Linked DNA regions of Homo sapiens: region 1 is linked to region 2. Evidence: fine-mapped expression QTL. Tissue or cell type: whole blood. Region 2 holds a variant in brackets; the other region holds the start of a gene. All regions are shown on one strand. Distances are between the middles of the regions.

Region 1 (4,153 bases), 37 kb before region 2:
CTACCCTGGTCTCTCAAAGTGCTGGCATTCCAGGCGTGAGCCACCGCACCCGGTGGAGAATTTACAGGGTCATAGAGAGTAAGGAAGAGAGGACAGAGCCCTGTGCCGGGCGCTGCTGGAGGTTTGTCTGTGTTCACCGCAGGGGTCATGGGTTGCCTGAGTGTTCCTGGGGCTTAGGGGTGTGAATAGAAGCCTCATGGGTGGGGTGTGGGCTGTGTGCCCTCACCTGGGGTCTCCTGCCTGTGGAGTGGCTGGCATGACCTGCAGATGAGGCCACTCACTTGAAACCCTGATAATGGCTGGAGTGGGCAGACAATGGAGTCTCACAGTGAAGGTCCTGCCTGGGGCCATGTGGCCCACCCCTGGAGGCTGCTCACCCCTGCCCCCCATCGTTAGCCTCCCAGTTACAACTGTAAGCCCCTTGAGGGCAGGGCTGGTTGGTTCTGCTCTAAGCCCAGGAAACATCAGTGGAAGACGCATGGTTGGGTGTGGACCCTGAGGCCTCAAGACACACCTGTCCACAAGCCAATGCGGGGTTCCAGGACCCTGGGGGCTGCTGGGATGGTGGGGACCTGGGGGACCTGCCCAAGTGGCCCATCGTCCTAGAAGTTCAAAGACAACAGAGGCCCAGCAGGAGCAGGAACGCCGACCCCCAGCGCCCACCGAATGGTAGGGGTGCAGAGAGGGCTCTGGAGCCCAGGCCTAGGAGAGGGGCAAGTGTGTGCAGGGCACCCTGTACCCTCCCACACTTCGCTGAACCTCCTCTCTCTCGGCTCCGCTCTGTCCAGCCACGTAGAGTGGGCTTACTGGGGCCCAGGGAGGGCTCAGCTGGCTTAACCAAGCATGGTTGAGCCCAGGCGCAGTGCGGGCGACCCAGGGAACAGTGGTCAGCCTCAGGGCGTCAGCTGGGGTTGCAGGTGGGCGGGGGATGGGGCTAGAGAAGCCCCGAATCGGGTCAGGGCCTCTGTCCATGCCCAACCCAGAGCAGGAGGTCGCCGCAGGCCAAAGCAGCTCCGCCCCCTGGAGGCAGCTCCGGCCACTGCGCAGTCCCCGCCGCCCCGCCGGAGCTGGGAAGGGGCGGGAGCGCGGTCGCGACCGAGGGGGGCCGCCCAGTTTCTGTGCCCCCGCCGCCTTGGGCCTGCGAACTGGGCCATCCGCGTCCCTGGTGTCCCCCCTAATATTTAACAAGTTGGCCTGGACGTCCTCGCGGCCGGGAGGCCCGAATACCTGGCCTCAGTTTTCCCGTCCGAACCCCAAGAATCGATGCCTGGGAATGGAAAGAGAAGCCCCGGACCCCGGTGTCCCAGCAGGGCGGGGAACCTCTGACCCGCTCAGGCGCCCCCAGCCCAGCCCAGCCCTTTGCGTTCGGCCCCCTCTTCCCGTCCCCCTATCCCGACCCTCTGGGACCCAACCGGCCCTCCCCACCCCCAGTGGGGCGCGCTCTAGTAGCTCCGGAACTGGGTGCAAAAAGAGGAACGAACGCAGCCTTGCCCCACCCTCCCGGGCCCCGCCGCGGGCGCGGGATACCGGGTGTCTCGGCCGGGAGGCTCCGAGGGGCTCTGTGAGCGGCGAGGGGGAACCCCAGAGAAGAGGACGAGCAGATGCCTGAGTGCGGGGTCAAAGCAGGGCCCCAGGCCGGGAGAAGAGGGGGGAAGGGTCGCGCACGTGGCCTGGGGGCGGGGCCGGCCGCTTCCGCACCCCTCCAACCCCGGCCACGTGGGGATCGGAGCCCTCCTCCATCGCGAACGGGGGCGCGCCCGGGGCCAGGAGGGAAGCATCCGGGGAGGGGGCGGGCTCCCGCCGGCCGCGCGCCCCGGCGTGGGGTGGGCGCGCCAGCGAGGAGGCGGGGCGCGCTCTGGGAGGGAGGGGCGTGCCGGGATGGGGCGGGGCGCGCTCTCGGAAGGAGGGGCGTGCCGGAGAGGGGGCGGGGTCCTCGGCCTCCCGCCCCGGCTTGAGGGGGTGGTGCTCCGGGAAAGGGTACGGGGGCGCGCGCTGGAGTGGGGCGCGCCGGGAGGGGGCGGGGCTCCCGGCCTTGCACCCTAGCGCGGAGAAGGCGCGCTCCGGGCCTAAGACGCTAGGCGCTGGCGGAGGCCGGAGTGGGCGCGCCGGGGGGCGGGTTCCTCCGGCCCGAGCCCCGCCCCCGGCGGCCGCGCGCGGCTCGGAGAGTGGTGGAGGGCGCGCCGGGCGGGGGGCGTGGCTGCGGCGCCCCGAGGGGGCGTCCTCCGGGCGGGGCGGGCTGTGGCCGCCCCCGCGGGCTCCGGTGCGTCAGGACGCGTCAGGCGGGGCGGGGCAGGCCGAGCGCGGGCGTCGGCGGCGGCGCGCGCCGGGCCTCCTCCTCCTCCTCCTCCGCCTCCCGCACTCGAGCAGCCGCCGCCGGCCGGACGGACGCCGCTCCCGCCGCCTCCGCTCCGCCCGCCGCGCCGCGCGCCCTTGCTCGGCATGTCGGCGGCCGTGGCGTGCGTGGATTACTTCGCCGCCGACGTGCTCATGGCCATCTCTTCGGGCGCCGTGGTGCACCGCGGGCGGCCCGGCCCCGAGGGCGCGGGCCCCGCCGCCGGCCTGGATGTGCGCGCGGCGCGCCGCGAGGCCGCCTCACCCGGGACCCCGGGGCCACCCCCGCCGCCCCCCGCCGCTTCTGGCCCGGGCCCCGGCGCCGCCGCGGCGCCCCACCTGCTGGCCGCCAGCATCCTGGCCGACCTGCGCGGCGGACCCGGAGCCGCCCCGGGGGGCGCCTCGCCCGCCTCCTCCTCCTCAGCCGCCTCGTCCCCGTCCTCGGGCCGCGCCCCCGGCGCCGCGCCCTCCGCCGCCGCCAAGAGCCACCGCTGTCCCTTCCCGGACTGCGCCAAAGCCTACTACAAGTCCTCGCACCTAAAGTCGCACCTGCGGACGCACACAGGTGAGTGCAGCCGCGATCCCGGCCCTTGCGGGGGCGGCCGCCTGAGACCCCTCCCCCGCCAGGACCCCGAAACTGCGTGGCGCGTGGGGGGCGGGGAGGGGGGCGCGCCCGGGCCGCCGCCGCGCCGGCCGGCAGGGCGGGGCCTCGGTGGGTGGGGCGCGCGCGGGGGGCGTGGCGGCCACGCGGTCGGGCGGCGAGCGGATGGCCGCCCCGGCGGCAGTGGCGGGGGCTCCGGGGGCCCAGCGAGGTCTGCGGGCGGGATTGAGACTCCTGGGCAGACCACCTCTCTCCCTTTCTGGGCCTTGTTCCGTTTTTTTTTTTTTCTTTTGCGTTCTGGTCTGGGCGGTGGGCACCGTGGTTGGAGCATCCGGCTCTGGGGTTCTGGGTTCTCCCCCTCCCCCAGCCTCAGTTTCCTTATCTGTGAAAATGGAGGAGGAACCGCGTCGCCGCCGCCGGGGTGGCCGCGCGGATTCTCCCCAGAGGTCGGCAGAGCACCTGGCGTGGGGCCAGGATGGGGGGAGCCCGGCACGTTTTCTCTGCGTTCTCTGTATTTTAACGAGGGGGAGGGCGAGGCTAGGAGCGCGGGTTGGGGCCTGAGTCTGGGCGGGGGAACTTCATAGTATTGGAGGACCCTCGAGGGGCTCGGGTCCACACTGCTGTATTTCCCTGGCGTGTTTGTTCACCCCTACCTGGCGGGCGATTCGGGAAGGTGCGCGTAGTTGGAGCGCTTCGGCTACACCAACGCCCCTCCTAGCGCAGTCCCCGGGGCGGCGAGGGGAACCGGGAGCCTGGTGGGCCTGGCTGTATTTTTTCACTCCGTCCCCTCCTAGGGTTCCACTTTCTGGACTGGGAGTTTGGACTGGGCAACAGGGGACGGTGGGCCTTGATGGCCGGCCCTGGTTTGGGCATTAGAGGTGCTTGTCCCTTCCGGGGAGGGTGGGGGGCTGGGGGAAAGCTGTGCGGCTGCCCTTGGGCTTGGCATTCTGGCCTTGCCACCAAACAGAAGACCTCTACCCGATCTGGGTCTCAATTTTCTCATTTCTATCAAGAGTGCGATGCTGCCTCTATTTCATAGCCATAGCGGTGGCCGCTTTGGGCAGCTGGACACTCCAAGGAGGCTTGGTCCGTGGGCTCGGATTGTAGGGACACGTGGAGCAGCCGAAGGGAAGTGGGCCGTCCAGAGTGGTGGGGCTGAGATGAGCAGGGGCCGCGAATGCCTTGCGGAAGAATTGAGGGTCCATCTTTGGGGTATGGGGA
Region 2 (4,153 bases):
CCCCATCCCCCGGCCCTGCTCAGCCACATCACCGCAGGCACACCGCCACCACACCACCGCTGGCACACTGCTGGCACACCTCCGCCACACCGCGGGCACACTGCTGGCTGGGTGGGGCCGTGTTGGCTGAGGAAGGGCTCTCCTGTGTCCACCGTCAGGCTGTGGTTGTCGGCCCAGCCCAGTCCTGCCTCAGCCCGGCACCCTGAATGCTGGGAGCTCCACACCCGCCTGCCCCGGGGAGTTCCAGCCTGTCGAGTGTCCACCCCACCATGGTCATTGTGCGCATTTCATGAGCCGTGTGAGGGAGCCTCCAGTACCCAGGGAGCTGTGTGTCACGCAGCCCAGGCCCATCCAGCGCCCATTGGTCAGGGCAAGGCGGGGCCCGGCACAGGGCCTGAGATGGCGCCATGGCCTGTACCCAGCTGGGCACCCCAGAGCCTTGGCGGGCGCCAGTGCGTGGTGGGTTTCGGAGGCAGGTCTCTTCCCTTCCCTGCAGTTTGAGACCGGGGCCGCCCCCATGCTGCGGGCTCCTCTCCGGCAGGCTGGTCACAGCTGTGCTCTCTGTTCCCTTCAGGGCTGGGTTACGACCCCTACAACCCTGAGCTGCCCAAGCCCCCCGCGCAGAGGGAGAATGGCACCCTGGGCCTGGGGGAGGAGCCGCGCCCGGATGTGCTGGAGTTGGAGCTGGTCAACCAGGCCATCGAGGCCGTGCGCAGTGAGGTGGAGCTGGAGCAGCGGCGCTACCGGGAGCTGCTGGAGACGACCCGTGAGCACCGCTCCGCCGAGGCCCCCGCCCTGGCGCCCCGCGGCCCCAACGCCAGCCCCACTGTGGGCCCGGACGAGGATGCCTTCCCACTGGCCTTCGACTACAGCCCCGGCAGCCACGGCCTATTAAGCCCTGATGCCGGCTACCAGCCCACCCCACTGGCCGCCCCTGCCGAGCCGGGCAGCAAGTACTCGCTGGCGTCCCTGGACAGGGGTCAGGGCAGAGGTGGAGGGGGTGGCGGTGCCCTGGAATACGTCCCCAAGGCTGTGAGCCAGCCCCGGCGGCACAGCCGCCCCGTTCCCAGTGGCAAGTACGTGGTGGACAACTCCAGGCCACCCACAGACCTGGAGTATGACCCTCTCTCCAACTACTCGGCCCGGCACCTCAGCAGGGCCAGCTCCCGGGATGAGCGGGCCGCCAAGCGGCCCCGGGGCTCCCGCGGCAGTGAGCCCTACACACCTGCTCCCAAGAAGCTCTGTGACCCCTTTGGCAGTTGCGATGCAAGGTTCTCAGACTCAGAAGATGAGGCCGCCACGGTCCCAGGTAACGAGCCCACCACGGCCAGCACCCCCAAAGCCAGGGCCGACCCTGAGATCAAGGCCACCGGGCAGCCACCCTCCAAAGAGGGCCTGGAGGCCGAGGGGGGCGGCCTGCGGGAGACCAAGGAGACGGCCGTGCAGTGCGACGTGGGGGACCTCCAGCCGCCCCCAGCCAAGCCCGCCTCCCCAGCCCAGGTCCAGTCCTCACAGGATGGGGGCTGCCCCAAGGAGGGAAAACCCAAGAAGAAAAAAACCGGGGCCCCACCTGCCCCCAGCTGCAAAGACGGGGCCCAGGGGAAGGACAAGACCAAGGACAAGGGCCGAGGGCGGCCTGTGGAGAAGCCCCGTGCGGACAAGAAGGGCCCGCAGGCCAGCAGCCCCCGGCGCAAGGCAGAGCGGCCGGAAGGGACCAAGAAGAAGCCATCTTCGGCCACTCCTGTGGCCACCTCAGGGAAAGGGAGGCCTGACCGGCCAGCGCGGCGGCCGAGCCCCACAAGCGGGGACTCCCGACCGGCGGCCGGCAGAGGCCCACCCCGCCCCCTCCAGCTGCCCGACAGGAAGAGCACCAAGGCCCCGTCGGGGAAGCTAGTGGAGCGGAAAGCCCGCTCACTAGACGAGGGCGCCTCCCAGGACGCCCCCAAGCTGAAGAAGCGGGCCCTGAGCCACGCCGACCTCTTTGGGGACGAGAGTGAGGACGAGGCCGCAGGGCCAGGGGTGCCGAGCGTGTGGCCCTCTGCCCTCCCCAGCCTCAGCTCGGACTCAGACTCCGACTCAGACTCCAGCCTGGGCTTCCCGGAGGCGCAGGGGCCGCCCAAGCGGCTCAAGGCCTCCCCGCCCCCCTCCCCCGCCCCATCCTCCTCCTCCTCCTCCTCCTCCTCC[A/TCCA]CCTCCAGCGCGGGGGCGGATGTGGACTACTCGGCCCTGGAGAAGGAGGTGGACTTTGACTCCGACCCCATGGAGGAGTGCCTGCGGATCTTCAACGAGTCCACCAGCGTCAAGACGGAGGACAGAGGCCGGCTGGCCCGGCAGGTGAGGCGCGCGGGTGCTGGGGCTGGGCTCGGGCAGAGGCAGAGCCGAGGGCCTGGTGAGAGACCTTCTATCTGGAGTGGTTTCCAGTTGGCTCGGAGGCACGGGGTGGAGGCAGCTCCTCAGTGCTGGTCCCTGAGCCCGTTGAAATCTCAGGAGCTCAGGAGCACCCGGGCAGCCCTGTTGCTCCTGTTGCCCCTCACCCACCCAGAGGTCACTGGCCCGTGGCCACCAGCCAGGCTTCTGTGGCCACGTGCACACGGTCTGTTCCCACTGACTGGCAGGGGGATATTGGCCCACCCACCCACCTCAGGGGAATCCACCTCCGGCACACCCTTCTAGCCCCTCTCCCCTCGCCTCCCCTTTCCTCCCTTCCCCCTCTCTTCTCCCCTCCTCCCTTCCCCCATCTCTGTCTCTTCTCTTCCAGCTCCTCTGTCTCCTCTCCTTGCCTCCTCCTCATCCCCTCCGGCTCCTTTCTCCTCCCCTCCCTCCTCCCTACTCCCAGCGTGGCGAGCTCTTGCTCTCCTGGGCCAGCCCTGGACCCCTGGGTCTCCTGGCCCCGTGTCCCCAAATTGGCCACCAGGGGGAGCTCACTCCACACAGACTGAGCCCAAGTGCTCAGCCCGCAGCAGCTGGTTCGGCCCAAGGTGGCCTCGCTTTCCCAGTGTGCTTTCATTCTGCAGCCCTGGGGTCTCCAAGCTGGGGCCCTGGGTGCCCAGGAGAGGTAGCCTTGGGCATCTGCAGAACGTGTGACACCTGCCCACCCCTCCGACTGCACCCACACAAAGCCCAGGGACTGTTGGCCCTGAGCCCTCAGCTGCTGTGCCTGGGGGCTGGACTGTTCCATTCCCCACTTGCCGGGGGCAGTTTGAGGTTGGGGTGTGTTGGTGTTGGCAGCGAGGGCAGACCTGTGCTGACGGACGGACATGTGTCTTAGCCCCCCAAGGAAGAGAAGAGTGAGGAGAAGGGGCTTTCGGGTCTGACCACTCTGTTCCCCGGGCAGAAGAGGAGGATCTCCCACCTTTCCAAGCAAGGCCAGGAGGTAAGGTCCGCAGAGGCCAGGCCAGCAGGAGCCTTTTTTTTTTTTTTTTTTAAAGACGAGGTTGGCCTGGTTTGGTGGCTCACGCCTGTAATCCCAGCACTTTGGGAGGCCAAGGCGGGTGGATCACCTGAGGCCAGGAGTTCGAGACCAGCCTGGCCAGCATGGCAAAACCCCATCTGTACTAAAAATACAAAAATTAGCTGGGCATGGTGATGGGTGCCTGTAATACCAGCTACTAGAGAGGCTGAGGCAGGAGAATCGCTTGAACTCAGGAGGCAGAGGTTACAGTGAGCCAAGATTGCACCACTGCACTCCAGCCTGGGTGATAGAGCAAGACTCTGTCTCAAAAAAAAAAAATTATAAAAAAAGGGGGTCTTGCTTTGTCACCCAGGCTGGTCTTCCAACTCCTGACCTCAAGTGATCCTCCTGCCTCGGCTTCCCAGCGTTGGGATTACAGGCGTGAGCCACTGCTCCCAGCTTCATCCCTCTGTTTTCTGTTTGTTTGTTTTTTGGTTGTTTTTTTTTTTTTTTTTTTTTTTGAGACGGAGTCTCGCTCTGTTACCCAGGCTGGAGTGCAGTGGCACGATCTCTGCTCACTGCAACTTCCGCCTCCCGGGCTTAAGTGATTTTCCTGCTTCAGCCTCCCGAGTACCTGGGATTACAGGTGCCCACCACCACACCAGGCTAATTTTTGTATCTTTAGTAGAGACGGGGTTTCACCATGTTGGCCAGACTGGTCTCGTGATCTGCCTACCTCGGCCTCCCAAAATGCTGGGATTACAAGCA

Evidence for each region. PIP is the estimated chance that this variant, and not a neighbour inherited with it, causes the effect.
Region 1: it holds the start of KLF16, and the variant in region 2 is fine-mapped to the expression of KLF16 in whole blood (INTERVAL, PIP 0.91).

What each region holds. Positions count from the first base shown.
Region 1 is chr19:1,861,784-1,865,936 of GRCh38, reverse strand. KLF16 (KLF transcription factor 16) reads left to right here and starts at 2,358. Exons shown (of 2, transcript NM_031918.4): 1 at 2,358-2,896. The coding sequence starts at 2,440. RefSeq lists enhancers at 268-822, 3,930-4,153, silencers at 996-1,215, 1,286-2,385, 2,716-2,895, 2,946-3,115 and a promoter at 1,265-2,469.
Region 2 is chr19:1,825,053-1,829,205 of GRCh38, reverse strand. It overlaps REXO1 (RNA exonuclease 1 homolog), which reads left to right. Exons shown (of 16, transcript NM_020695.4): 2 at 575-2,328; 3 at 3,263-3,367. Among named protein-coding and RNA genes, the nearest start is that of MIR1909, 11 kb to the right of the region's middle. RefSeq lists an enhancer at 237-737 and a silencer at 1,863-1,998. The variant A/TCCA (reference allele first, on the strand shown) is at 2,185.